Regions from separate parts of the Homo sapiens genome. Here regions 2, 3, 4 and 5 are each linked to region 1. Evidence: fine-mapped expression QTL. A gene starts in region 1. Each other region holds a variant in brackets. All regions are shown on one strand. Distances are between the middles of the regions. Region 1 holds the start of GRIN3A (glutamate ionotropic receptor NMDA type subunit 3A). Region 2 overlaps GRIN3A (glutamate ionotropic receptor NMDA type subunit 3A). Region 3 overlaps RNF20 (ring finger protein 20). Region 4 overlaps GRIN3A (glutamate ionotropic receptor NMDA type subunit 3A). Region 5 has its middle 330 kb from the start of LINC00587.

Region 1 (6,509 bases):
CTTTTCTCAGTTTCTCAGTCGTTAAAATGGGCCCATGCCAATTACCTATTTGCTTCATAGATACTTTGTGCAAGGCTTAACACAGCTTGAGATTATGATAAAAGTAACATATAAAAGGCAGAAAACTCATTACTAAATAAGGACTCTGTCTTGTTCTTAAAGATTCATCTCCTCATTATTACTTGTCAACGTTAAGTTCACAAATAGCTCTTTCATTGAAAATATGTTTAGCTTTTTTAATCAATAAGAAACTAAATCATTTAATTCCTTTTTTTTTTTAATTCTTAGATGATGGGGAGAGAAATGGGCTGAACACAGCAACTGAATACCAGCCTCTGAGTCCACATTACATAGAAGGAAAGTAGGGACAAAGAAACAATCCCCAAATAAATCTCCCCGTCCATCTTTACACTTTTATATATTTCTAATGCTTTCCAATATCCGAGACTAATTGACCACTCTTCTCTACCTATGGCTTCTGTACTAGGTGCAGATTTTCTATTTACCCAGAGGAATTCAGAGCGATGTGCTTTCTTCCTTACACCTTTGCCTAAGGCTCAGGCACACCTTCTGAAGAAGTCAGAGAGAGCAGATGCTGCTTTTCCGACACATGCTGTCAGAGTTGCTCTTGGGAGTGTGACACCTAGCCAGGAGTCAGGGATACCCCACCCCCATACCCTGCTCTTGTAGTTCTTCAGAACCTTCACCGCTCTCCACGGTCCTGAACCTCGACTTCTACTTCCCGTCGGGCATCTACTAGATTTCTCCCAGCCGGTCAAAATATGATTTTCTCTCATATTCTCCCCACTTCTTTCCTTCCAGCCGCGACCTCACTGCGCGTTTTATTTCCATCCGCGCTTTAAATATTTTATTCTACTTCTACTAAGCTCCTTCTACCTACCACCTACGAACATGGCCCAATCGTTAAGCAATATCAAAGTTATAAAGTAACAACTCCCCTCAGACTTTACCAAGCCGTTTTCTCTCCCCTCATGCAATGGCCCCGGCCCCCAGCAGCGCCCATCTCCACTCCACGCACCAGGCTCCTCTCACCTGACTCTCCCGTGGAAACTCGTGGCGCACGATGCTGATCACTGGAATGTGCAGGACTAAGCTGACCAAGTCGAGCTCCATCATTTCGCCCTGGCTCTGGGGGAAGGCGAGCAGCGCCGACACCCCTTGCACCACCACGGTATGGCACACACTTTGCAGGAAGGAGAAAGGGTCACTGCTCCATGGCGAACTAGGGGAGGAGAAGGGCAAAAGTGGCAGATCGCCCAGGCCTGCCTCGATGGCCATCACTACTTCCAAAGACAGGTTGTAGGGTAGCAGCCCTTCCACGCGGTTCAGGTTGTCCACGGCAAATAGGAGGGCGTCCCGTGGCCACAGGGCCTCCGCCCTGGCGCCCTCCCCGGGCTTACGGGAGCCCGGCGGCCCCCGGCCATGCAGGGTGCTCCCCAACCAGCGTGCGCCCGGCGAGGGCGCCGGGGACCGCCTAGTCCCTGGCTCCGGCTCATCCCTCTGGGCTCCTGCTCGGCTGTCGTCCGGAGCGCGGCTGGCCGCGCGGGGGGCGGTGGTCCAGGGCTGCAAGTGCACCGCGCCCACCCTCACCGCGTGCCCGATGCGCTTGAGGATCTGGCAGGGCTGCGGGTGCGAGGAGGAGCTGGGCACCCCGGCCAGCACCAGTGCGCAGGGCGGCGGCAACAGCAGACAGACCCTGCTCAGCAGCCACCACAAACTCAGTCTCCTCATTACTGAGACCCGCAGGGAGAAAGCGCGCCCCCTCCTGCGCCCGGCTCGCCCCTCTGCAGCCGCTGCCTGAGGTCTCCGCCTCCAGGTCCCGCGCGCAGCTTCACTCCACTCGGTGAAGCGGTCCCAGGAGCTGGAGCGGTCTCTAGGCCATGCAAGTTGGAGCGTAGCGCGCCTCCGGCAGTCTCAGATCCCGCTCCCAGGTCCCTCCGCCTGGCATCCTCTGCCCGCCCGGTCACTGCGCTGAGCAGGCAGGCGGGCGGGCCGGCGCCTGTCACCCGCAGCTGGAGCGCCCGTTCCCTGCCCGCCCCATCTGCAGGGCGCCTCGGGCACTGCGTCCGGCCCCGCGAGGCGGCCGGGATGAGAAGCAGCCGGAGTTCCTCGGGGGCAGCAGTGACAGAGGAGCGACGCGCTCTCGCCTGGATTCTTTTCCTTTTCTGCCCAGGCGAGACCCACTTATTTCCTGGGGTCGCGTTGGAGAGGGCTTTCACGCCCGGGGTGCGGAAAAGAAGCCAAATCCACCTTCCTCCACTGTTGGCCACCCTCCTGCAGGCTCCCCCAGCGCCGACTTCATTTTCTCTCTTCTCTCGCTACTTCCTCTCTGCCTTTCTTTCGTTATTTTTCCACCGAGTCGCCACCGCCGCTTGCTTCCTCGGAGGAGCAACGCGACTGGCCAGCAAAGGGTGGCTCTGCTCCGAGCGCCAAAGTTCTCCCCGCCTCAGCCGGCGCCTCCCTGTTGCTGAGCCCTGGCGCCTGCCTGTCGCTTGGCTGCGCTAAACGCCCACTGTTGGTGAGATTCCCGAGTGGCACATCCCGCGCCCCTGGAAAGTCCTCTCCCCTCAAAGGCTGGGCGTCATAGTTTGCAAAATTCCCTAAAACCTAAGAAGGAAAATAGGACTATGAGCCGGTGAGAATTCTGAATTCAGAGTCGCACCTGAGGGATCTGAAATTCGGTGGTTCACTGAAATAGGTTCAAAGAGGCTGTGACTTAACGAGCTTCTGGATGTGTCGCTTTTAAGGTTTTTCTAGCTAAGGGTATTAAAGTAAGAATTATTTACACATTTTTATCTCCTCAGCTTCTTTCTTTCTGGCATGTGAGCCTTTGCATTTTTTTTTTAAAGAATCCCTGTTTTTAGGTTCTCAGAATTAAAACAAAGTGAATTCAAAGCAATTTTTTCAGTTCAAGAAATTAAAGAGTTTCAAAATACTTTTAGAGTTTAAAATGCAGTCAACAGCAGTTCCCAGTTTAGATCAAGAGTCCCCAGATCACAGTTTGTACTAAGTTATTTCATTTGTATGGTAATACAGTGAAGTCAACGTGTTGTGATCTAATCTTTTCCTCCATGATTTGAATAATCTGAAACTAGAAGGTAAGGAAAGAGTTAAGGGCAGGCCTGTGGTTTGCACATATACAGTAGATTAATTTTATTTTATCCCACAGTATCGTTTAGAAGGAGGGTAGGAGAGATCCATGGGGTGGAGCAAGCACTGGGGATCAGCCTTTCTGAGTCTAATACTACTTCATGACCATGACCTTGGCAACTTATTTCACCCGACCTTGCCCTGCTGTTTGGATCTGCTAAATTGTTATGCAAATACAGCTGGCTTTTAGCTCTGGAGGGTTGTTTTGATTCATGAGCTAAAGTTTCCATCATGTTTTAAATCCTGGGAAGAAGAGACTCTAGTTAAGTAAAAATCCCAAGAAGCTTGCAAAGTGAATGCTGTTTTCCCCAGCCCAGATCTTTAAAGGTATCTCAGAACAAATTTACCAGACATTCGGCATCGTTTTTGCAAGACTGGGTTGCTAGAGAAGAAAAGTCTCCCATGAGAAAAAAAGTGAAAATCATAGTAGTGGGCTGAATGAGGAGGGAAAGAAACCCTCCTGAAGCCTGAGAGAACATCCCATGAATGGAGAAAAGCTGCCTCTAGTGTGCTGGAAATTCCCCCTTGATCCACAGGATTCCACTGATTGAGATCTGAATAATAAAAGTGTAGAAGTCTGAGGTCCTTGCATTGCAGGAAGATTGGGTATCTACTAATTGTGTAGTAAGGAGGTATATTTGTCTGTACTCGAGTGTGTGTTTTGAAGAATATAATGTATAACTTTCTAGGTTATGACCATGCTTAGTCCTTGTACTTTTAGTCCTTGGCATTACACTTATGTTCAGATCAGGTTCTCAAGAAAAACATGATGATGGAGAATAGTTTGATCTGATCATTAATAGCATCCTAGAATCACTCTATATGCATTAGGTTTTTCACAAGTTCATGACTGCCTTGAGGGAATAACTGAACTGCTCTTACACAGAAGACCTTCCCAAGTTTCTGAGGATAATACTGCACCAGGTCGTGATAAAACTCTACTTAAACCTGGTGAATACTGAGTGAACAATGAAGAATGGCTCTCCCTTCTTGGGCTTCCTTTTGTTTCTTTCCGGGCTTTCCCATTATAATTCACTGGTGTCCTTCCTGTTTTCCTTTTGCTGCTTGGTTTTCTTTGTCCATATCATGGTGGTCTGAGCATATCTGACAAAATTGTTCTCTCTCCTTTCCCCAAATCTTCTTTTTCCTTTTCCCTTTCTCCTTCTTGTCCACCTTTTTCATGTGTCAAGGGTCATCATTTTCAAAGTTCACTTAAATTCAACAACCAATTATTAAGCTCCTAGTATGTGTCAATCATTGTTGTAGGACCATCCTGGAAACAGATGAATAAACTCTAGAAAAGTTGAGTTTTCTCCTTTCCACAACATCACATAGTCAATAAGTGAACAAAATGCTAACATAGAGCTTATATTCTAGTGTGAAAGAGACAATAAAATATACAAATAAGTAAATAAATGTAGGGTATGTTAGTTTGTGCTAAGTGGAAAAAGAAAGCAGTGTAGAGGAAGTATTAGGAAGAGGTTGGGTTGTAATTTTAGGTGAGAAAGCCAGGGAAGACCTCTCGGAGAAGACAGCTTTTGAATAAAGATGTAAAGGGAGGTAAGGGAGTGATTCATGTGAATACTCTAGGCAAGAATTCCCAAGCAGGGGAAACTACATGCCAAGGCCCCGAGTGTTTCTGGAAGGTTTAAAGAATAATGAGGGGTCTGGAGTGGCCGGAGCAAAATGATCCAGGGTGAAAGTGGTGGCAGGTCAGGTCAGAGAGGCAATGAAGAGGTGGCAGACAATGTAAGCAAATGAACTTTGGCATCTACTCTGAATGAGATGAGAAGGCATGAAGGCAGGGACATTGGGCAGAAGAGTGATAGAATTAATACTTTAACGGGATCGCTACAGTTGTTTTGTTACTGATAGATGAACAGTGGTTAAGAGTGGAGGGCAGAAGAGTGATAGAATTAATACTTTAACGGGATCGCTACAGTTGTTTTGTTACTGATAGATGAACAGTGGTTAAGAGTGGACGCCAGAAGATGAGAAAAGGAGATGAGGCTATTGCAATAAGCCACATGAAAAATAACACTACTGTCAAATCATAGAAATCAACCTCAATAGGTTTGTGTGATCATCCCCATTCTAAAGAAAAGGACATTGAATTTGAGAAAAGTTGAGTTATCTGCACAAAATCATTAGATAGTGAGTAGCATTGTGGCTTCAATATTTTAAGTTCTTCCCAGCTGTGTGGTTGGTAGCTAAAATCAGTCAAATTTCAAAATTGGCTTACTCAGAGATGAAGCTTTTTAAAAATTATTATCTGACTCAGAATGAGAACTACTGATCTAAGAACCCATGTTGGAGAGTCAAACCAGAACAAATCCAAATGCTCGCAATTTAACATGTGCTTTTGTTCACATCTGTGTTTTCTGGTACCAGCAATGGATGGACTAAAAGCTGAGATATATTGCTATGGTGGTAGCCAAGGAAAGGCTACAGTAAAGGATGCTGTGGGAATTAGGAGTTAGATTCTCTTTTCAGTATTGTTTCGCCTATGGATATGACATTTAACCTCTTACAGCTGAAGATTCCTCCTCTGAACTGTGGTTGTGGCGACAGATCTTAACAGTTGTCTGTATAGATGCAACAGTATGCAGCCTCCTGTGAATCTTTTCAAGTTCCACGGGAATGGGAGGCTTCTGGTGAGTCTGGAAAACTATCTTGTGTTTTTTCCTATACCTTGACTTATTACAAGTTGCATTCACATCTATCTTTGTTTTTGTAAATGGCCATAATATTAAATGGCATGTCCCCAATTCTGGGTCTCCCCCTTTTTTTTTTTTTGCAATAGTAATTATGTAGATTTTTATCAATATTCAGATGAAAAATGTGTTCTCCCCTAGCTAGTGCATATCCAGAGTCTCAAATTATGCTGTCTTCCACATTGGCTCCTTTGTTTCTATTGCCAAGGACCTTGTTGTCATGTGAATCTTCCTGGATAAAAGCAAACAAACAAAAAATATATGGAGCTCTTAGAGAATCTATGGTAGCAGAATTTTAGAAGGGAATGAATCTAGAAAAAAATTAGGTCAGTTTAGGGGAGCAGACCCTGAGGGCTCATCTGTCCAAAGCCTAATAATTTTTTCTCATTCCCTCAATTAAAAATAAGCCTATATTCACTCAATACTTTGTAACACTGTTCTACATTCTACTAATTAGGCATTAATTTTGGCAGCAATTATTCTCTTTTAAAAATGCAAATAACTCTCATGATTTTGGGACTATCAGTGAGTCACAGATTAGTATAAATTATTTTATCCTGATTGGTGTAAAATTAATATCCTGTTGGGATTTTTGGGGGGAAGAGAAGGGAAAGAAGTTTATTT
Region 2 (5,000 bases), 150 kb before region 1:
ATGCCAGATACAATATACCTGTATTATGATCTTATAATTACCCTGTAAGTTAAGTGTTATTATCCTTATTTCACATTTGAGAAAGCAGAGGTTTATAGGGGTTAATAACCTTACTTACCCAAGATCATGCAAGCTACTAAGTCGGGATCCAGGCTGCGGATCCAGGACTGTCTGATGCCAAAGCCTGCAATGCTTCTCAAACAATCGCCATTTATAGGTATCCTTTTCTAGTTGAATCTTCACTATTCGCTATAACAACTATCACAATTTTTTATTTAAAACTCACATTGGAATGGAAAATCCACTATCATCTGCCTGTGAACACCAGAGAAAATGTTTCAATTGTGTCTGAGTCTGAGTGACAAGACATACAGCTGCCTTTGTAATTCAGCGGTTCCTCCCCTAGGATCACATTGTTTAAATGTGCTGTGCATATGTGCATCTTCCCCATATTATCAAGTGAAAACTTTCTTTCTAGTAAAAAACTGCTCAACTTGATACTCATTATTGGTCAGAGGAAGAAAAGAAGGAGTTATGAATATTCAATATCAAATATTTAAAATACACTCAGGTGATGCAGACAAAATGATAATTGCAGCTGCAAGTGACTTGAGTGGTAGCACATTCAGAAATGCAAGCAGAAGTCCAGTCTCATGCTGTCAAGGGCCATGTAAATGAATGCAAAAAGAATGCAAACAAACATATGTTTTGAGGTTGTTGTTTTTTCCCCCTTTATCCCATTGCTTCAGCTGCAGCTTCATTTGCTAGCTCATAGCCACACACTTCCAGAGACTCAAGGGCCAGGGAGAGAAGGCTGTCACAGGATTGATTGATTTGATTGGATTTTTTGAGACAGAGTCTCACTCTGAGGCTCATACTAGAGTGCAATGGCACAGTCTTGACTCACTGCAACCTCTGCCTCCCGGGTTCAAGCAATTCTCATGCCTCAGCCTCCCAAGTAGCTGGGATTACAGGCATGTGTTACCACACCCAGCTAATTTTTGTATTTTTAGTAGAGACAGGGTTTCACCATATTAGCCAGGCTTGAACTCTCCACCTTAGGTAATCTGCCCGCCTCAGCCTCCCAAATTGTTGGGAATGCAGGTGTGAGCCACTGCACCCGGCTAGTCCCAGGATTGAGCCAGGGACAAATCTCAGGCATTTATTGCTCCAGTTGGTCCTTCACAAACTTACTCTAGCCCACCCCATCTCACTTAGGCAACTCTTTAACTAGTAAGTAATCATTCAAAAAATTGCCTTGCTCATGTATTTCATTTTTCTAAAGGTTATTTATATTCATTATGTTTCTTTAGCATTTTATTGTTAATTTACATTAGTATATATTTACTACACTGTGAAGAAAAAACATAGTTTGTATCTGATACTGTACTCTGCATGTTGCATGGAGGAATACCAACAAATTATGCACTATACAACTAATGTTTTAAATGCTTTATGTTATGCAGAAATTCTTGGTAGATTGTCACATATCCATGCATTGTGCATTAGATATTAAATGTCTACAGGTGTCTAAGAGTGTTTTAGCGAATTTAGGGAAACTGCTTGAGATTTTTGGATGAAATAGGAATACTTTATTATTTTTTCCATTTGAAATAATGGAAAGGGCTTCCACCATCTATAAATTTACTAGCCAACACATTTCTAGGAATGGACCAAATTCAGATAAAAGGAGATGTTTGTACTATCACAGGTGTGGTCTCTGACCAGATCAGTAACATGTATAGGATAAGATTATAAACTTTGTTGTTGCCCAAACCCTGCTTTGTATTTTGTTCAGATGTCGTCACTTGAAACATCTGACAGCTGGCTCGAGTAGTGACTAGTTCTCAAGTCTCCAGCAAGAAATGCAGATAAAGTGTTTCACTCATCATTTGTTTTTGATGTTACTAATCAAGATCTATGCAGCTAATCCTTCCTTGTGCCCATTCCACACCTCCCAGCACATAGCAACCACCTGATTTCTCTGGTTTTCTAGAGTGTTGTCTATACTCATTGCTTCTAATTCCTTTTCTCCCATTCTCCCTTAGACCCTCTTCAATCAGACTTTTGTCCCCTCCCATCACCTGTCAAACAATTCCTGTAAAAGTAAAAAATGGCCTCCATATTGCCAAATCTAACGGTCAGTTTTCACCTTATTCATGTATCGGCAGCTTGGACGCCATTGATTACTCCATCTTCTTTGGTATAGTTTCTTAACTTTGTTTTTGTGATACTTCTTTCTCTTTGTTGTACCTTAGTCTCTTTTGCTTTTCTTCTTCATCTTTCTGACTGTAAACATAGGCATGCTTTCAGTTTTTCAGCTACACTCATGTTCTCATTCAGAGTCAGCTTTAAATACCACCCAGATGTCAATGACTCCCAAGAGTTGGGGGCTTTTCTGTCCTAACTTCCTACTCTGCCTCTTTACTTAGGTAATGAACGGACATTTCAAAGATAACACATTAAAAGCAAACTCCTAATTTTCCCTCTGAAACCTGCTGCTTACACAGTCTTTCTCATCACAATGAACCTCCATCCTTGCCATGACACAGGGAAAAAAACCTTAGAACCACCTTTGATTCCTGTCTTTCTCTAGCATCCCATTACCCTGTGTATCTGCAAATATGGTGGAACCGACCTTCAAAGTATATCCAGAATTCAACATCCCACCACCTCCACCAACCACCCTGATCCAAGCCACCATCCCCTCTCACCTCACCTAGATTATTGAGACAGCCTCCTAGTTGTTTTCCCTAACCCCTTCTGTCTTCTTCACAGCAGTGAGAATGACTGTCATGTCACTCCTGTGCTCAATGCCTGGTCATGGTTTTCTGTCTCTTGC[G/A]GAGTAAATTCAGAGTCCTTGCAATGGGCTATGAGGCCTCACAAGATCTATTTCCTCATATCCTTCTTCTCTCTCGCTGGTTGACTTTGCTCAGCCATTTGGGCTTCCTTATTGTTCCTTAAATCTATTGAGCAACTTGCCACTTGAGGGTATTTTCATTTTCTGTTCGTGCCTGTAAACTCTTCTGCCAGGAATCAATATTGCTCCTTCCCTCACTTTCTTTAGGTTTCTTCTCAAATGTCACCTATCCATGAAGTTTACCCTAATCACTGTGCTTAAAAAGGCAAATTCTTTTCCCCCTTCCATCCTCTTTCAGATACAATCTATCTCTCTTACTTTGCTTTATTTCTCTCTTGACATAGTATGTGTTTATTTGTTTATTGCCTATTTCCCCAGCAAAGTAGAATGTAAGCTACAGGAGGGCAGCACTTTTGTCCATTTTGCTCGATACATACTCTTGTTTAGAACAGTGCCCAGCACGGTGAATATTTTTTAAATGAATGAATGAAAGCATATGAAAACTAGGATTTTTTGTATAAAATAAATTTGCATAATTTCCCCCACCCCCGATCCCAAACAGTCTCATTATATCACAGAAGCTTCCTAGAACAGTTGTTTAAGAGAGAAGGGTGGAGATGGACATTCTCAATTAAAAGGAGAGGAAACAAGGCCCAGTTTTGCTAGCCTGACCTGATCATGCTAATATTCACCAATCTAGGGATCTACTGTTGAAACTGGGACAAAAAATTTTTTAAATTACTGAAGTAAAACACTGGAAACTGAATGCAAAAATTTCAGGAGGAATGTATTGATTTTGTTTTCTTAGGATCCTTTCTTTGGGGAACTGCCCTCTTCCTGCTTCATGTGGTTTTGGTGTATCTACCAATCACAGACTCCCTGCTCCCTGTTCACCAGGCAAAGCATGAGACTCAAGGCCAGTCAATGTGAATCTGAAACAGAAACACTGGATATCAAAGGTGTTTGGAGATGAGTCATTTCCAATGTCAGTGCCCCAAAGACATAGTCCCCTAGTTCCTGCACTAGCATCCTTGGAGTGCTGTGGTTCGAGGCTTCATCTGTCACTCTCTTTCTTACTTCAAAACATTGAGCTTTCCCGTTATTCTTTTGATAGGTTTTGCTTAAGTTTAAAAATCTGTTGCAGCCGGGCGCAGTGGCTCACGCCTGTAATCCTAACACTTTGGGAGGCCGAGACAAGTGGATCATCTGAGGTCAGGAGTTCGAGACCAGCCTGATCAACATGGTGAAACCCTGTCTCTACTAAAAATACAAAAATTAGTCAGGCATGGTGGCAGGTGCCTGTAGTTCCAGCTACTCGGGAGGCTGAGGCAGGAGAATTGCTTGAATCCGGGAGGCAGAGGCTGCAGTGAGCTGAAATTGCACCACTGCAATCCAGCCTGGGCAACAGAGCGAGACTCCATCTCAAAAAAAAAAAAAAAAAATCTGTTGCTTGCAACCAAATAATCTGATTCAATATATGTACTGTTTAAAGGATTAAGGTCCTCTAGCTCCGAGGTGTGAATATAACTTCTTTTGAGATAGACTGTATCCTGACGCAGATCTCAGAAATGAACGGGTGGAGCCTGTTTTAGGAAGTCTTCTCTGACAGGGTAAGGCTGTGTTGCTTTTGCCTGTCTCCAGCAGCCTAGTATATAGTAAGTTCAATAAAAAATAAAAAGCACATGTCTGAAAAGTAACTTAATTACATTTACTCTGACATTCCCTATTAAATATTTTTCCCCAGAGCAAAATGACTGCAAGAACCTGGGAAAATAATTGTATTTTTCAGTGACCTAATGCACTAAGCTTTGTATCATCTCCTCTCTGGATCTGCACAGCCAAATGCGATGTTCAAGAATTTTTTTCCTTAATAAGAGAGCTGGTGGCAGGGGGAGAAATAATGATTTTAATGAGAGGTAAGGAAAAGAAAAAGGCTGTGGTGCTTCTGAAATATGGATGACTCATAGATGCTTGGAAGCAGGACAAGGAAGAAGCAAATGCTATTTCTAATTTTGAAGACCTGGTATCTATTTTATTTATTTATTTATTTATTTATTGCCTCCTGATTATTTTGCCCAGAAGAATAGTTAGTTGCTCAAAAGAACTTGGCAGATTCATTGCTGTGTCTATACATATGGCC
Region 3 (6,509 bases), 180 kb before region 1:
ATTAGCATGCATTCTCTATTTTTGGCAATTTGGAAAAGAATCTTTTCAGTCATTTTTCAGACTCTTACTGAATCTTCCACAATATTTTATATTAAAAGTAAAGCTTTCAGTTATCATAGTCTTGATGTATTTTGAAGGGTTCATGGGCAAAATCAGTAATAGTTTGAGATTTCTAACATACTGTATTTTGTGGGCTTATAGATTAACAGAATAGTTTTTTTTCTTTTTTTAATCTTTTCATTTGTGTTAAAATCTGATTTTCTGTTCAAAGGTTGATGCCCAGCTACAGGTAGTAAGGAAACTGGAAGAGAAGGAGCATCTGTTACAGAGCAACATTGGCACAGGGGAGAAAGAGCTGGGTCTTAGGACCCAAGCCTTAGAGATGAATAAACGCAAGGTATGATTGATTAATCTAATGATGGTTAGTCTCAGTGGAACAAATAAGTATAACACTGTTGAGATTGTAAGTTCGCTTTATTCCTTCAACTTGGGCTAACATTTTGCCTCACTGGCAATAATAGGTGATACAATGGTGTCACTTATTTGTACATCCTACATAGGCAATGGAGGCAGCCCAGCTTGCAGATGACCTCAAAGCACAACTGGAGTTGGCTCAGAAGAAGCTACATGATTTTCAGGATGAGATCGTGGAGAACAGTGTTACCAAAGAAAAGGACATGTTCAATTTCAAACGAGCCCAGGTAAAAGCAGTTGTCTTTTCTTGTCACCTTTTAGGTGTTTTCTGAGGTCGGAAGTGACCCATATCATGAAAGAATCATTAGTCCAATGTATGTCATTTCCTACTAGACTTGAGGAAGTTTGTTGAGGGAAGAGAGTAAGTCTGTTTTCTTCACTGCCATATCCTCAGACTCTTTTATGGTGCCTTGCACCTAGTAGGCACAAAATAAATATTTGTTAAATTAATGAATTAGTAAATTGTTAAAGAAGTAACAGCATAGCAGCAGTAGAGGATTTTCAAGTTCTTGTATAATGTCTCTATTTTTGTCATGCTAGCTGTTTCTCATGATGTCTTTCTGTCTTTATCCGTAAGTCTCTGAATTATTTTAAACCGTTCTACCTTCAGCTTAAAACTAATTACTATAAAACAAAATAGACTGTCCTCTAAACTCTTAGATGTGTTTTCACAGGACTGAATTGGTAATAGATGCAATTCTAATTTGGGGATATAATTATGGTTGCCTCTTCTGAAACAAAAGAAAATATCCTGCCATTTGCAGTTCTCTACATTTCTACAAGATAATTGACCATAAAAGGATAGAAAGTCCCCTCTTTTCACAACAGAAAACTCAAGTCTATTATTTTTCTCAAAAATGATAGATTTGGGTAAGTGTGTCTAATGGGTATGCTATCCTGCCACAGGAGGACATCTCTAGACTTCGCAGGAAGCTGGAGACCACAAAGAAACCAGACAATGTACCCAAGTGTGATGAGATTCTGATGGAAGAGATTAAGGATTACAAGGTTAGAAAAAATGCCTTAGTGATTAGTTTTTTGTCAAAGCTTTAAGTGGCCTAATAGACTGGGAGAATAATTTGCATGATAGTAACCAGAGAATGGTTTATTTTGGAGGTTGGGGGGAAATGATGCTCTTTTTTTAGTGCCTTGTGGGTTTTCTTCTTGGTTGTGTAGTATATGAGAGCCATTTGGATCATAAACTTTCATGGTTGTTCAAACTCTGACATCTTTTCTTTTTAGGCACGCTTGACCTGTCCGTGCTGTAACATGCGTAAAAAGGATGCTGTTCTTACTAAGTGTTTTCATGTCTTCTGCTTTGAGTGTGTGAAGACACGCTATGACACCCGCCAGCGCAAATGTCCCAAGTGTAATGCTGCTTTTGGTGCCAATGATTTTCATCGCATCTACATTGGTTGATCTAAGTCAAGAGAAGAAGAGGAGCTGGCTAGTCAGGAACTTATTCATTAACCACCAAACCTCTACCTCTTCTCTCCTTGACTGTCACCTGTAGGACAGTTTATCAGTCAACTACCTTTCCTCCAGACTTTACTTCCAGGCTCTCCTCTTCAGTAGCTGGATGACTTTAGCAGAAAGGACTGGTAAATACAAGCCTTGGGTTTCAGAATGAATTAGAAACAAATAACTCTTACTGTCTTCCCTCCCAGCTTTGTTTATTTTGTGCTTTTAGACTTTTCAGTGTTTTCTTTTTCCAGCCCACTGTATAAACTTGGATTGTCCATTCCTCCTGAAGAAATCAAGTTGGTATTTTTGATGTGGAAAAGGGAACAAAAGTGGAAACATGGCTACTTTTGGGGAGTGATATTTTAAAAAATAAGTTGTCTATGGGCACAAAGTTTTCTTCATTTGTGTAGCAAACTTCTTGTGAATGTGGATTACAAAATGGTATAATTGTGCTACTCTCCCCTGGGTGGTTTGCAGCCCTAATGAAATTATGTCTAGGATGATTCAGTCTATTTCCCATTTACTAGCAGAGTAACTTGTTAAGATCAGCTGGCTTTCTTGTTAAAGTTATTTAAGTTTTGAATGCTCTACTACTTCAAGTCTTTAAATTTCTTGAGACTAGAATAATTTTAAATAATATGACCCTTTGTCTTCTAATGAAATAAAGATTGAAGAGGTTGAGTCAGGACTGAGCTGGTGAAGAAATCTTGTGGGTATTCTGGAAATTTGATACGGAGAGAACTTGGTGAGCTATGAATTACTCTCAGTCTCCTTTTTACAGGGTTGTTGTGATCCCTCTTTTCCAGAAAATTCTGTGGAATGTTTCTGTAGGACTTTGTTCTCCACAAGCTTGAATTAAAGCAGGATTCAGTTTGCATTTGTGTTTATGGTTTTTCTTTGAAACTTTTGTCTTTATTATTACAAGTTGATTTTATATCTGCTGTTATAGAATTAAATTTTCTTGCATGGAAATAATCAGCTTAGGTTAAGAGGTTGGCCTTGTTTAGAGTATTTAGATCTTTGCTTAATTGAAGCACTTTTCTCCCAATTCTTTTATTGAGTCTATTCTATGGAGAAATTATACCTAAAAGATTAATTTATTTGACTACTCAGTTATCTTTCATAGTTCATTAGGTGGGGTAAGAGACTATAATTTGTTTTTTGGGGGAGCATATTGCTGCCTCTAGCTTTAGGGTGAGAGTTCTTGCATTATGTGGTGGGTTTTTTTTTTTTTTTTTTGAGATGGAGTTTTGCTCTTGTCGCCCAGGCTGGAGTGCAGTGGCACAATCTTGGCTTACTGCCACCTCCGCCTCCTGGGTCCAAGCAATTCTCCTGCCTCAGCCTCCCGAATAGCTGGGATTACAGGTGCTCACCACCATGTCCAGCTAATTTTTGTATTTTTAGCAGAGATGGGGTTTTACCATGTTGGCCAGGCTGGTCTCAAACTCCTGACTTCAGGTGATCCACCTTCCTTGGCCTCCCAAAGTGTTTTGATTACAGGTGTGAGCCACCATGCCCAGCTGCATTATGTTTTATAATAACCAGCAAACCAGAGGTTTCATAAATCTCTGGCAAGGGGTTGTGTAAAATGGATCCTTCTTGATCACCACCTGTCCTAGAAGACAGGTAAGAGCAAATTCTGTGTCTTT[C/T]TGTGGTCACCAGCTATAATCAGCAGGATTTGCACTGAATTCCACAAAGTCATGTGGTATGAATTAAGCAATGAGTCTAATTGAAGAATCTTACTAGGTCATCAAGAGAGGTCATGGGTCCCTTGATCCCCCTGCTCAGCAAACACCCCCACCCCCACAGAACCATCATGACAGGATTAGCTCCTGCTTCTGGACACAGTGAGTTTTCATTTAGTAATAGGACACTTTCCCCTTGCTTCTTGCTCTTCTTATAGGGTAAGCTTGAGCATAACTTTGTTGGTTGGGTGCAGATATACTGCTTGGTCAACAGGTGGTTTGGGCTTGGCTGTTGGCTGTTTGTGACAATTGGCTGAGAAAGCCAGCTGCCCAGCACCAGGGGACCATAGGGCCTGTGGAATGTTGTGGAGGAAACCACTAGCCCCATGGGAAGTTGGATTTAGAGGAAGTTCCTCTAGTTGAGATGAGCAGGGAGCCCCTGATCCCAACTGGCTTGAGGTCCTGGCAACACAAGTTGAGCTCTCACAGTCATTTTCAGATAACAACCAAAAATGATGGTGATTTTTTGGCAGTTGGCTTCTCTCACTACAGAAGAGGTCAATGAATGCGCTTTAGGAATACTCCCAAACTGCATACCAAATTTTATTTGTATTGTATGTACATTATTCATAGCTTTTTTGGATCCTAGTTAGCAATCACAGCCCTTGATCCATATGAACTTTAAAGGGTAATTTCTTTAAGGTAATGCTTATAAATGCCAATTTCAAAGATTATTATAGAAGTCCTAGAGGCTTCTCATTTCTTAAAAACACTTCAGGCTGGGTGCAGTGGCTCACGCCTATAATCCCAGCAGTTTGGGAGGCTGAGACAGGAGGATTGCTTGAGCCCAGGAGTTTGAGACCAGCCCAGGCAACATAGGGAGACCCCGTCTCTACAAAAAATTTCGAAAATTAGCTGGCTGTGGTGGTGCACACCTGTAGTCCCAGCTACTTGGGAGACTGCAGCGGGAGGATAGCTTGAGCACCGGAGGTTAAGGCTGCTGTGAGCTGTGATTATGCCATGGACTCCAGCCTGGGTGACACAGTGAGACCCTGTCTCAAAAACAAACAACAACCATTTCAGATTTTGTAGGGATGGTCTCTCTCTCTCTTTTTTCTTTCTTTCATTGTTACCTTGGAAATTTCTTAGTGACTTTGACCAAAGTCAGGTGTGCTCTGAGGCATGCATAACTACATGGCTTGGATCTTACCTTCTTACTTACTATAGGGATCTTTTTCAAAGGTATTGAGCTGTTTCTGCAATTGTTTTCTTACATGAATTTCCATTGCAATTCCTTTTCCTTTTTCTCTGTCCAGATCCGTAGGCTTCCTTGTTCTTCAAGGGCCGGAATTTGATGCACATAGTTTAATGTACATGCCACTAGAGTGATGACTGTGATTTGATTTTGTGAAGATTCTAGACAATAAATAATCATCAGTCTTCTAAACCTACTAGGATGGTGATGCTTACACTTGCCGGAAGCATATGCTACTCTCATCTTTATTCCCATTGTCATTTGCTAGGATGTGGAATGCCGTTACATATTGTTCTTTGAAGATTTATCTGAGGACTGCCAGATAAACCCATGTCCCAGTGGATCTGCAGAAAAGTTTTGATTAGTCATTATTGCAGAAGTCTGCTTTTCTGATGTTAAGACAGATACACTGAGATTAGTAGAAAAATGGTGGATTATGTGTAGGTTGGATTGGGTTTGCACAATAGGAAACCCATGACATAGAAATACTTACAAATTTTCTAGATCTTAAAGTTTGGAAATACTTAAAAGTGGTCCTATCAGAAAGAATGAGCTTTACCTTCTGGGATTCCTGCCCATGTTTGGTCTGTTCCAAATGTTAGCTATTAAGGTCTTACTTATAGCCTACTTCACAATTACTAAAGGACATGAAAAGGACAATGTCTTAACAGTCTAATCCCTAATATCTAGCAGAGGCACATAGTAGTCAGTAAAGTTTTTCATGATTAAATTAATTCTGCTTCATGGTTCTGCTGCCAGATCTTCCGAAGTCTGCTTTACTGGGCCAATGTGTGATTCAAACCTTATTACTCTTTCTTTTTTTCACCCCCTAAGTAGAAACAATCTTTCCCCATATATCGAAGTAACCCTTCAAATTTGTATTATCCAAAAATATATGACTACAGTTTTAATTTATTTTGTGGCAATAAAAGGAATTATTATGAATTCTAAAACTAACACTTCTGTAGTGGCAGCTCATGAGACTGCTGAGTCTCATGTAGCTGAGACTTCACTTACTGCAAGGCACACATGATAACCACTACGCTACGGAAACCTGCATAAAAGCTTCATTTATTGTAAGTTAACCTTTTTTTTTTTTGAGGGAAGCTATGTTCACATTAATATAATAATAATATGCTCTGAGGATATTAGAGCTGAAAGGGAACTCAGACCATGTCCTTATTTTAGAAGTGAGGAAATAGGTTCCAGGGCCACTCAGGTTAGCCACAGGATTGAAATGCTACTATGAGAACTCCATTGTTCTTTTATCCCAATCGGAGACCTGTACTAATAGAGTACATGTCATCAGGTAGACAATAAGTGAAAATACTTTCTGAGTCATTTTGAAGTCTTCTAAAGACTTACATATACCTACTATACTTATCCTTGATCATTCTAATCTAACTAGACTCTTTGCCAGGCCCTGGATTAGAACTACATTTTGTTTCTGAATTCACTGAGTTCCTTTAGCACCTTGTTGTAGAGTAGAATTGAATCAAGGGATCTTAGATTTCTTCCTGCTCTCCCAATCATATGCATTTGCTGAGTGCTTATTGTGATTCCAGGCATTGTGTTAAATATATTTCTCATGAAGTCCGACTTGCCTGCGTATGGTGCTGCTACTTATTAGC
Region 4 (5,000 bases), 160 kb before region 1:
TACTTATGAGATAAGGAGAGTTTCTCACTACAAGAATAGATTAGAGCCCTAAGCAGCATAGCTGCTGATTTTTTCCACCATAGGAGAAGAAGCAGGAGGAGGAGTAGGAGGGTTATGACAACTTTTGCAATCTACCACAGGACAAAACTAAATAGAAACACCCTACCAAGCCATTGTGTTTTTGTTCCCATTCATGTAACTGAATTGACTTTTTTCCTGGACTCTTACTTGCCAGGAGAAGGGGACAATCTGGAAGGAGAAGGGGAAAGAGAAGAATAATAAAGTCTTTATGTAAAAGTGGCCATAAACCTTCTTTTCTCCTTTCATTTATGCCCTCTGTAATGTGACTTTGCAGCTTGTACCTATGCTGAATCTGCTTTCCTCCCCGCTTCAGTTAGGAGTGTTCTCACAACTTGTTTTGGGCAACAGAAAGTGGCAGACATATCAGAGTGGCAGTTCCAAGCCTAAACTTTTAAGAAGTCTTGCACATTTCCACTCTCTTGGAACCCTGCTGCTGCAATGTGAACAAGTCCAGAATGGCCTGCTGCATGATGGTAGACCATATGGAGAGAATCCTCAGGCTTCCCAGTTGACTAGCTGAGGCCATCATAGACCAGACAGCCCTTAGCTGCTTTCCCCATCCCCCAAAGTTGGCTACAGACATATGAGCAAACCCAGCCAAATTCAGCCAAGTCTGGCTCAGATCAGCAAACTGCACAGTTGATCCATGAATTAGTAAGCAACTTGCTGTTGTTTAAAACATTAAGTATTGGGATGATTTATCACATAGCAAAGACCAACTTATACATGACCCAAGCCATTGAAACACACACTCCAAACCACCCTGTGGTTCTTTAACATGCCTCATAGTCTAAGTTTTATATAAATGAGCAGAGGGTACCAGAGCTCAGTTTTCTTGTATCCTGGGCTGGGTAAAAGTTCTGTAATGAACCCACTTATAGCTCCATTGGCTTTAGACCTGAGTCAGAGAGGAGATGTAATTTTTCTTCTAGCTTTATAATTCCCTTTAATTTTTTTCTTCAAATCTTTTCCTATTGAATTTGAATAATCTTAAAGTAATCTTGGTTGTGCTGTTATGTAGTTTGTAATTTTTGTGTGTCTTGGGGTGAGAGGAAAGGGAAAACAGGGGTGACATGTATTGATTGGGAACCCAGTGAGATGAAAGATAGACCAAAACCTTATGTGAAATCACATGTTGAATAAACCCAGGGCTATATATAAATCATCTCCTGCAATATGTACCTTATTTTCTTTGCATTAAATGAGAAAGGGACAATACCTACTTCCATATCATGGCCCAAAATTTCTCCAAGCATTTCCTCAAACCCATGTTAATAATTCATTCATTTATCTATTTGCTCTTTTATTTGTTCAGTAAATATGGGGCACAGAGGAGGGATGTCAAGTTGTAGCATGCATGAGCATTTGCATAGATATACTTCCAAGAGAAGAGAGGGAGAGCATTCTAATGCCCTACAATGGTTCATAGCAGGGAAAACCTGAGAGTAGAGCATCTACACATTTTCTTCAACTGTCTAGACAGCCACAGTGATAAGGTAAGTAAAGATAGCTGGACTGGTCTTCTCCAGAGCTTTGTATATCTATCTGGTAATATAATATAGAAGAATAAACAAATGCTGGACTTTGTGCCAAATTCTAGTTGCTAGTATCACCAGGCATCTGATATTTGATGTGGGTACCTATGAGTGCAAGGTGACAAATGCTGAGTGTAAGACTCAGTGTCTACTTGGAAAAAATAACCCAAGGCTGGTGTTATACTCCTAGCCTCAGTAACATTTAGGCTTTGCTTTGATTCAAGCCTTCGTCAGTCTTAGAGTGTTACATGACCAGTGAGTGAGCTGTATTTAACACTAAAAATGGGTAAAATAGGCTTCCCTGGAGCAATTATGTAACACTGAGGTTCAATACTCCACTGGACTATTCCAAAGAGACATGACGGCTATGGTACGCCAAACACTCATTGTGTTTGACAGGTTGCTAATGTTGGGTTGTATAGAGGTAGGCACAGGAAATGTGAGCCCAAGCTAAACCATGAACACCTGTTCTCCTTAGATCCTCAAAATAAGGGGTTCAGGAAGGGAATCTGCCAAGAAAACTGGGTAAGTTGCATCAAAAGACACAAATGGTTTTCAATTTATGTGAGAAAGATGTGAATATGAATCATATCACAGTTGGAGATGGGATCATTGGGCTTCCTGTTTCTATTATAGCTGGAAAACAAATATTTTTTCATTGTAAGATGATACATTTGCTGCTATGTCTTCTTGTGTTACTGTTATTAAAAATTTATGTTAAAAATAGAAAAAATAGATGTAACATGTCATGGAACAGCTGTGACTGGACTAGTATACAGCTTGTCACTAACA[C/G]ACTTGCAATATGATGCAGGAATACCACAGACTGAGAGGGGAGGGGAGAGTGCTCATTGACTGGAAAGAGATACTTCAAGAGATAAAGGAAATGATTCCAACAAGCTAGATGGAGACTGCATAGAAGGGGACTGCAGCAGTCCCAGAAAAGATACAAACAAAAAGAATCCTGTTTTCCATCCCTTTTTCTTCTGTTATGATGAGAGGTGTGCCCTCATCTGAGGCCTCTGGGTGTACAAAAGAATCAGTAGGGTTGCCTTAGGCAGCAGGCAGCAGAGACTAGCCAGGAACCAGACCCAAGTGCTTCTGACATCTTTAGTCACCATGAAATAGGGAACAGTCATCCACAGCCTGGTGTGGTGAGAGTGAAGAGCTTCGATTTTCAGATGTCATTAATGCATTTAATGTTTGTTATTTCCTATTAATAAGATGCTCTTTGCTAGGGAGTTTGTAGAAAAGTGCCAGGAAATGAATTAGGCATGACATGTCTGTTTCATATTTCCAATACTCTGTTCCTAGGAATGCTAGAAAGGAGTAGGGAGTGGAAATATGCCAAAAAGACAGTAAAACATGGAATTAATTGCCTGCGGTATTCATTAATTCTTACATGTATTTTGTACATAATAATAGCTAATATTTATTAGGCATTTCCTTTCATTCAGAGATGTACATGTATGATCTTATTTAATCTTTACAACAACTCTAGGAAATAGGTACTGTTTTTATCTCTACTTTACAAATGAGGAACTTGAGGTGCAGAGAGATTAAATAAGTGACTTACACAAAGTAACACATATCATAAGTCTTGGAGACAGGATTTGGATCCAGAGGGTTGATCCTAGAGTCCATGACTACACTTCTAACCATGACAGTATATTGTGTACACTGCATTTTAGTGTCCATATACATTTTTTATTTTATGTTTTATTTCCCTCTATTTATACTGATTCTTTTGATAAATTGCCCTGATTTGATCTGAATAATTATACAGTTAGATCTCTAAAGATTATTTTACAAATATAAAGACAGTTGCCATTGGCCCCTTCTTACCTCTTTTCCACACGTTTGGTCTTGAAATGCTGCTGCTTTTCCTCTATAAATGATGTATTTATTGCTCTGTGTAATCTCTGATGGAGAAAACAGATTCACAGGTAGAAATTATGAGAAACACATAGGTCAGGGAACAAAGAACCACTTGAGATGTAACAGTATATGTAGTCGTTACAAACCTTGGCCTCTTTAAACAAATTCCAGAAATGCCTAAAAATAGATCAACATTCAGCCTCAAATCTCAACAGAACAAAAATTCTAATTAGAGGTTATTATTCCACCTGGAGAAACAAAAAAGTGTTCTGATGGAAAGCTCAGTATTATAAAACGGTATGTGATATAAGGAGGCACAATCATAACTAATGTGTAGCAAAAGGCCTTCCATAATTGCTAAAGATGAGTAAAAAGTATATAATTAATTGACAACCAAAACAAAGAAGGGAAGGAGGACTCTTGAGAATTAAGTTAATCATATTAGCATACAATAAGGAAGATCTGTGGAGTTCTCCTAGAAGACCAAATACTTCCCAGGATAAAAGTAGGAAGAACAGGGTTCAACTGTAACCAAACCAATGATAGTAACCTATCTAGAAAAAAAAAAAGTGTTACCAAAGTGAGGAGTTTAGTATGAGGGTATATGAATACATGAATAGGGTAAATGCAGAAGTGACAGCCTCCCTGCTGGGAGGTAATCCATGGTACACTGGAGGGCAGGAGGTGGTCTCACCACAGGAGAGGCCAGGATGGCTCATCCAGCCTTGCTGTGGTCAAGTGAAACCACTCCCTTTGTTAGAGTTCTTCCATCATTATGAAGCCTTCTGACTATATTTTGGGTCTCCATGCCAATTTCATTCAGGGAGAGATATGCAAACGAGTGTGCTTGAGTCACCAGTCTGCTTGACAGTTTCAGTTCTCCCTGTAAATCAGTGCGTTGATGTCTAGGTAACAGGAGAGAACTGCGGCCTTGTGAAGCTTGGCCTTGGCCCCAATGGGTCTCAAACCCCTCTGGACCAGGGAAAAAGCAGAGAGAACAGGGGCAAGTGGGGTCACTTAAAGGGGACCAGGGACTTTAAACTCACGTAATAGGTTTCAATTTTGGCAAGAAAAGAACCTAGGAAATAAATCTTTCACACCATCTTTTCAGACTGTCACTATTAAGTGAAACCTGGTTAAAAAAGTTCTATTTCTTCTATTATGAACAACAGTGGAGGGTTATAGGAAAGGAAGGAGCACTGTGGGATGCCTTAATTTAAGGGAAAAGTGAATTAATGGGATAGAGAGAATTCCTTCTGCTCTAATGAGAGTGCCTACCCCACCCTCGTTATTGTGGTAACATAACTTAGTAGTCTGACATAGGGCTCTGGATCCTCCCATCCCTAGGAATTGTACAGTTTAAGAATATTGGAGCAAGACACCTGTGGCACTCACCTGGCTGGTGTGGAGCCAGTATTGCAGCTTGGATTTGTTTTTGATTCGTGGTAGCAGCAGCCTGTATACTATGTGCTCACCAATGGTGGTCAAAATGGACAGACCAAATCCAAT
Region 5 (6,509 bases), 450 kb after region 1:
AAGAATAAGAGTGACAGTTTCCAAACCCTACATTTTGAAGCTGAAATCGAAAGTCAGTATCCTTTGATTAAAGATGATGTGTTATTGGTGTCTACTAGTGAGGGAATAGGACGAGTATGGTATTCCTTTGTCATGATGGATAGTATTTCAATAATTTGTTTTCAAGTAAGATTCAAAATTAGAATATATTTTGTATGAGCATGATATACATGGCTGTCTTAGTGAAAATAGTAATTATTCCCTCAATTTTTCTGTCACAGAACAACTCCCCTCCTTGACAAATTTCAGAGTTACATTTGATATCAGATACCCTCATCCAAATGAGTTTTCTTTGATTTCATCTGATTTACTAGTATTTAAAAGTTACTGACAAAGTTGTCAAAAGCCAAAATTGTAATGTTCCTTTGTTATGTCAATGATTTGGTGATGTAAGTTAGTAGAAAATCAGAGATGGCCAAAACAACCTCCAGCTGTTAAAGGATCCCAGCATAAGTTATCAGAGTAAATGCCACATTCCCCCACAGGTTTGTCTGATGTAATGATATATTCAGTGTTAATTAACAATAGAGAACCCATTTGGGAAAATATAGGCAAGGTTGCATAGGAGTGACACAACAGTTAAGAACCAAAAATTACAAATCTGGAAATCCTAATGCCCAATGAAATCTTAGCTAGACAGTCGTTAAAATTATGTAGATATTTTTAAATGTTAACAGCAGTTAGCACAAATAGCATTTTTATTACATGCAGAATTAAATTGTATTATCTTAAATGCTTGAACTGGAAAATATGTATATTTAGTTACTTGGTCAGAAAATTGGAAGAAATTTAGTTATATCCAATATCTTCTCATCATGCATAAAACCAAGACCTAAGCAATCATACGATTCTGGGAAACATTTACTATTTCAAAAGGATTCTCACTGTTATAAATAATTAAGTAGGTGTCATAACTGCTTTTAAATAACACACACACACACACACACACACACACAAATTCTGAAACTGTGTCTAAGTTACAAAGGCCTGGGCTAACAGTAACCACAAAAATGTTTAATAGCATGTTGTATAAAGTCATGGTAGATAATTTACTTATGGGCAATGGAGCAAGATATTCTTAAAGATAGTTCTCAACATATGACAGCATTCCAGCAAGAAAGTCCATAAACCATATCTCCTCTACATTTTTCCCACATAGAAGGGAGACATAACTTTCTCCAATAAGGTGCAATAAGAATATTTGCAGAATAGACATCTTTAACTGTCCCAAACTGCCTAAAGCCTAATATTTGCATGGATATGTGATTATAAAATATTAGCAAAGCAAAGGACAAGGGCAAATAAATATTGATGATGAAATTTACACAAACTCTGAGTAAATTGCACAGATAAATGAACTATCTAAACTAAAATTAGTCTTCAATTAGTGTAGCAGTCCTAAATGGAAATGGTGATTATATTCATGAGTATTAACACACAACACAGACCAGACTGTTAGCACAATACCGACCAGAGTATTAGCTCACAATACAGACCAGAGTGGATTATGGTAATGGATCAGAGGATGATATGGAAGCAGCAACAGGCCAGAAAGAATGACGAAAAAATATTTTTTCTCTAGAATATTATGAATAAATTAGAAGTTAATATTAGTTTAAAAGTTATGTATGTGAATTCTAGTTTTTCATGTGTGGTTATGAAGGCAGTTCAATGTGGACAAATTGCTCATATTTGATTTCTGTTCCTAATACTTAACAATGGTATAATATTGGAGAAAGATTCATTTTCCTCATCATCTTAGATAATAAATTTAGCAGTACCTCAAAACCATAGGATCATTATGAGGATTAGATAATATAATAAATGCAATGTGCTTAAAAGAGTGTCTTGCATTTAATAATTTCTCAATAAATGTTAGTTTCTTCATTATATGTTATATAAACAGCATATAAAATGCTATGTAAAATACATATGTGTATTATAAATTATGTATATAATAGACCAGTAAAATTTTGAATATTATAGAAATATGTTAAGCACATGTATAAACTAAGTTTTGTATATTTTTATTTAATATTTTTGTTAAAATATTTGAGAGTGGGGCATTTTATAAAGTTGATTCTATACAGTAAATTAAATTATTTTCAATTTATATTTTTATCCTTCTATCCATAAAATCAAAAAGAAAAAACATTCTATATGAAGTAACCTGACATTAGAGTATCACATTAAGGAGAAAAATCTTTATTATTTTTTGAATGAGCAATCTTCAGTAGGCCTCATATTAGTGAATGTAAAATGCTCTTGATTGGCATATGAACGTTAACCTACCTTTTGTGAAAGAATATTTATAAATTCCATTAAGGGCATCTTTTATAGTCAAATGACTAAATTTTTCTTGTAATTCAATTATACTTGCAATCTAGAGTCACCATATAATTACATACTTTCTATTTTATGTTTTATTAATTAGATTTCTTGAAAATGAGGAATACAACATCACATCTGTAAATGACTTGTCATGTTACAATCCCTTACCTGAACTTAGCAGACTACACACTCACAGACACACATACACAAATGCAGCACACACACACACACACACACACATACACATCTACATACTGTTTCAAACTTTGAAGTAGAAATAGCTTGATTCCAGCAATATGGAGTATAATTAAATGACCACATAATTTATCATCTAAAGCAGAACATCTTGGAAGTGAAAGGTGGCTCTATTTATAATTACTCAGGAATGACAGATGTTAAAGAGATTGTCATAGGCAAACCAAAATGCATAGTGACCCTAACTGGAATATGGGAAAGAGAGCATATACAGTGTTCATCAGCTTGCAAGATAGTAAACACTCTTGAATTGATTTGAATCCAGGTGCTAACTTTTTATAGCTGGATAAGTTAATTTATAATCTCCTTAGTTATGAGTTTTCTCATCTCAACAGATGGATTAATATTACCTTTCATAGAATTGCTATGATAATCTGATGTGAAAATGTATAAAGGAATAGTTCTGTTATGTAAACACAAGATAGGTTAACCGCTGTGTTACTACCTCAGTAGTTTTAATGATAAAACTATTTGTTTTCTGGTGATAAACAACACACATTAGTGTGTTTGTTCTGTTGATAAATATGGTGAATTAAAAATAATTGCATTTAGGATGTGCTTTGAAATGAAA[C/T]GAGTTAGATCATATATATTTGTGAGCCTTCTGCTTTCGTTCTTACCTATATTGATCTCTACATACACTTTCTTCTTAGTTTGTAATTTTCCTGAATATAGGGACCATGTCAGTAATTTACTTTAAAAGATTTAGAGTTTCTCTAAATATTTCTTATATTTTGGAACAAAAATAGTTCTACCTAACTTTAAGTTCCATTTCTGTAATAAATTAGGTAACTCTTGAAGCTGCTTTAAAACTTTAACATGTAGTATTTTCCTGTGTTCTAATGTAAAATATAATCCATAAATACAAAAAAAATTGGGGATTTTTTTTTTCAGATTCCATGTAACTTTTAATCTGTTCTGGATATATCACTCAATACTGAAATGCATAAAGCGTGTTCCAAAATATGCACAAACTTTTATACACAGAACACAAAACTGTACACTTAATATGGTTAAATGCTAAATTTTATGTTATATCTTTTACCACAATGAAAATTTTTGAAAAAATGAAATACCAGCTAATGCATACTCTTTGGATAGTTAACAAAATTTGTGAAGATACAGGCCTCTCAAACATTATATTCGTAATCTTCAATGTGTCAGCAAAAACGAATCCATTTATTAATGAAATGCAATGAGGCTTAGTAATTTTAAATATATTACTGTATGCATACAAAGATTTTGCATATAGTAGAATCTCGAATATAAGTGTCTACCACAAAAGCCTAGAGTTATAAGGGATTGCCCTACAAATAATCTTCCTCCAATTACAGATATCCTTTTAAATGACATTTGCAGCAAAAAAACACCATCCCCGTTGTACACTCTCATTCACAAAGAATTTATTATTTTACAAAAAATCTCACTCTGTGGCTAAACAACGTGTAAGAAAATTCAGTGTTGCCATGACAGTAACTTGTACTTATTAGTTCAGCTTCTAGATTTTCCACCCTAATAGGTAAGTCTAATCTCTTCTTTGATATTTCTTCGAATCTGTGGAAAGAGCTACTAAATCCTCCGTTTAGTTGTTACCTTGTTTTGTTTCATTTTAGGATGAAAGGAACTTATCCCACTTCTTTTAATTATCCTGGTAATCAAAAATTTTATTCACAGAAGTGATTATGGTAGATGTAGTCTAATTTATGCAAATTACAGTGGGTTTGCTATACCATTTTTTCTGTATATTATATGCCAATTAATACATCCTGAAGGTAATGCTACTTTGTACAGTTAGTTTTAGACTGCAACTGCATTTATTTAAAAGTGTGTGTAAGTATATTTGTATTTGATGTAAAGTGTGTTTGTGGAGTGTGTGTTCCAAAGACTGGGATTCGGCATACTTATTTACCAAAATTGTACTGCTTGTTTTTGGAAAATAAATGTTTTACTCATTACTTTGTCAGTCTGCCCTGTCCGCATTCATTATACCACTTGTGCTCATGTTCCATTATAGTTAAATTATCAAGCAAAACTCTCAGAGACAAAATACATGGTGATCAGGACATATATAACAACATGAGAAGCTTTTTAGCATCAGTAGCACAAAAAATACACAAATAACCAAAATGCTCATAAAACTCTCAAGTTGAAAACACTGAAAATGATAAAGGAAGGGCTGATTTTTTGTTGCATAGAAGTATGAGGCAACGAGAAAGGGAGATGGGAGTACATATTGAAGAGAAGGCATTGATATAAGAGTAGTCTTAGTCCAGAAGTCATACTTGCTACTTGATTGTCATATTTGTATTTTATTTAAACACACATATATTATGTTAATTAATAGACTAAATTATGTTATACTTTGATATCTATAAAATAAAATATTTGATACATCAAAATCAGATTTCATAATAGAAACATCTCAGTCACTAAAAGGACACATTATTCGAAAGAATGTAAAGAGATCTGTGACTTTGGCTGTCTTTTAACTTCTCTTGGCTGTTTCCTCACTTTAAATTGGGCAATACAAACTAATCTTCAACTTACCTTCAAATGAGAATAATCTATGATTGAATAATCTATAAGTGATCTTAAAGAGGAGTTACAAATTCTACCAAACGCCAAGTTGTATAAAGTTCTGAGGCTATTACCATTCTGCCAAATTTTCTGAAAATGCAGCCTCTTTAGTTCAGAGAACATTTGTATGGGAATCTCTCTTCAAATGGAACTCTTTAGACTAAGGTCTGTGATTCATATTTATATCTCCTTCCTTAAATCTTCTCATTCACAAATTCACGTGTAACTCTGATACCCCACAGAAATAATCAGTATCCATATCTCACTCTATTCCCACATCCCATCCCAAATGAAAAGCAAATTCTACAGTTACCTTATAACTACTGTTGCTGCCAGAGTTCTGAGAACAGTTCCAACTTCTATCTAAACCACTGTACTGCATGACCAAGAGATGGCAGAGGTCTCTTCTGCAAATTTCCAATCTAACCCAAGTAGGTTTGTTAGAGATATTCATTATCAAGTTTAAAATGTTGTCCTCTCTTCCTAGTTTACTGAGCAGCTTTGTCACAAGTTGGTTTTGGATTTTGCCAAATGCTTTTTCTTCATATATTAGTAAGATATTAAAATTTTTCTATTTTAGCTTGTTAATGTGATAGGTTAATTGTTCTTTTCTTCAATCAACAAATATTTATTAATATTTTTAAAAATTTTATGTTAACTGACATAATAGATACAGTTATTAGATGCAATATGATGTTTTGGTATATATTTACAATGTAGAGTGATTAAGTAAGACTAAAAGAGATAAACTAAAACATATAAAAATATGGAGAGATGCATCTCTATTCTGGGAGTGGCTGGGTCTTTCCTCATTCCTTAGATACCTGGGAATACTCCCACTTCTTTGGGAGATGAAACCCAACATAACACTATAGTTGATTTTTCACATAAGGCCCATATCAGTGTTATGGAAAAAAATACTTGATGTTTTGTTTTCATTTCATTTCGTTTTCATTCATTGTTTTATTTATGTAAACTTTTTATTTTAGAACAATATGATTTTTACAAAATTATTGCAAACTAGTACAAAATTTTACCATTCTTTCCTATTATTAACTTTTTACTTAGTATGCTATATTTGTCACAATTAATGAACCAATACTGATACATTATTAGGGAGAACAGTTCTACTATTTTCTTTGTAAGTCAGCTATCAAAGTTATTCTGCCTACCCATCATATTTAAGATTTTTCATGCCATAGTTACACACCAGTTTACTGTGTCTCCCCACAAAATACAAGAGATTGTAAAAACTCTATGACTTGTCCTGTCAGAATCTTTTGCCCAAGTTTGACATGATGTTAGTGTGA

What was found. PIP is the estimated chance that this variant, and not a neighbour inherited with it, causes the effect. A credible set is the group of variants that fine-mapping cannot tell apart.
Region 2: its variant is the best candidate, but not a certain one, in a credible set for the expression of GRIN3A in monocytes after R848 (Quach 2016, PIP 0.85).
Region 3: its variant is the best candidate, but not a certain one, in a credible set for the expression of GRIN3A in spleen (GTEx, PIP 0.55).
Region 4: its variant is the best candidate, but not a certain one, in a credible set for the expression of GRIN3A in T cells (TOPMed, PIP 0.63).
Region 5: its variant is the best candidate, but not a certain one, in a credible set for the expression of GRIN3A in prostate (GTEx, PIP 0.59).

What each region holds. Positions count from the first base shown.
Region 1 is chr9:101,736,228-101,742,736 of GRCh38, forward strand. GRIN3A (glutamate ionotropic receptor NMDA type subunit 3A) reads right to left here and starts at 2,420. Exons shown (of 9, transcript NM_133445.3): 1 at 1,054-2,420. The coding sequence starts at 1,752. RefSeq lists a silencer at 540-834 and enhancers at 1,729-2,253, 2,254-2,777.
Region 2 is chr9:101,583,026-101,588,025 of GRCh38, forward strand. All of the region lies in intron 6 of GRIN3A (glutamate ionotropic receptor NMDA type subunit 3A), which reads right to left. Among named protein-coding and RNA genes, the nearest start is that of PPP3R2, 9.4 kb to the right of the region's middle. RefSeq lists an enhancer at 3,696-3,745. The variant G/A (reference allele first, on the strand shown) is at 2,843.
Region 3 is chr9:101,560,530-101,567,038 of GRCh38, forward strand. RNF20 (ring finger protein 20) reads left to right here. Exons shown (of 20, transcript NM_019592.7): 17 at 272-397; 18 at 561-701; 19 at 1,381-1,482; 20 at 1,717-2,815. The coding sequence ends at 1,893. Among named protein-coding and RNA genes, the nearest start is that of RNF20, 30 kb to the left of the region's middle. The variant C/T (reference allele first, on the strand shown) is at 3,588.
Region 4 is chr9:101,574,310-101,579,309 of GRCh38, forward strand. GRIN3A (glutamate ionotropic receptor NMDA type subunit 3A) reads right to left here. Exons shown (of 9, transcript NM_133445.3): 7 at 4,887-5,000; 8 at 3,459-3,535. Among named protein-coding and RNA genes, the nearest start is that of PPP3R2, 18 kb to the right of the region's middle. The variant C/G (reference allele first, on the strand shown) is at 2,409.
Region 5 is chr9:102,190,444-102,196,952 of GRCh38, forward strand. No RefSeq gene overlaps it. Among named protein-coding and RNA genes, the nearest start is that of LINC00587, 330 kb to the right of the region's middle. The variant C/T (reference allele first, on the strand shown) is at 3,197.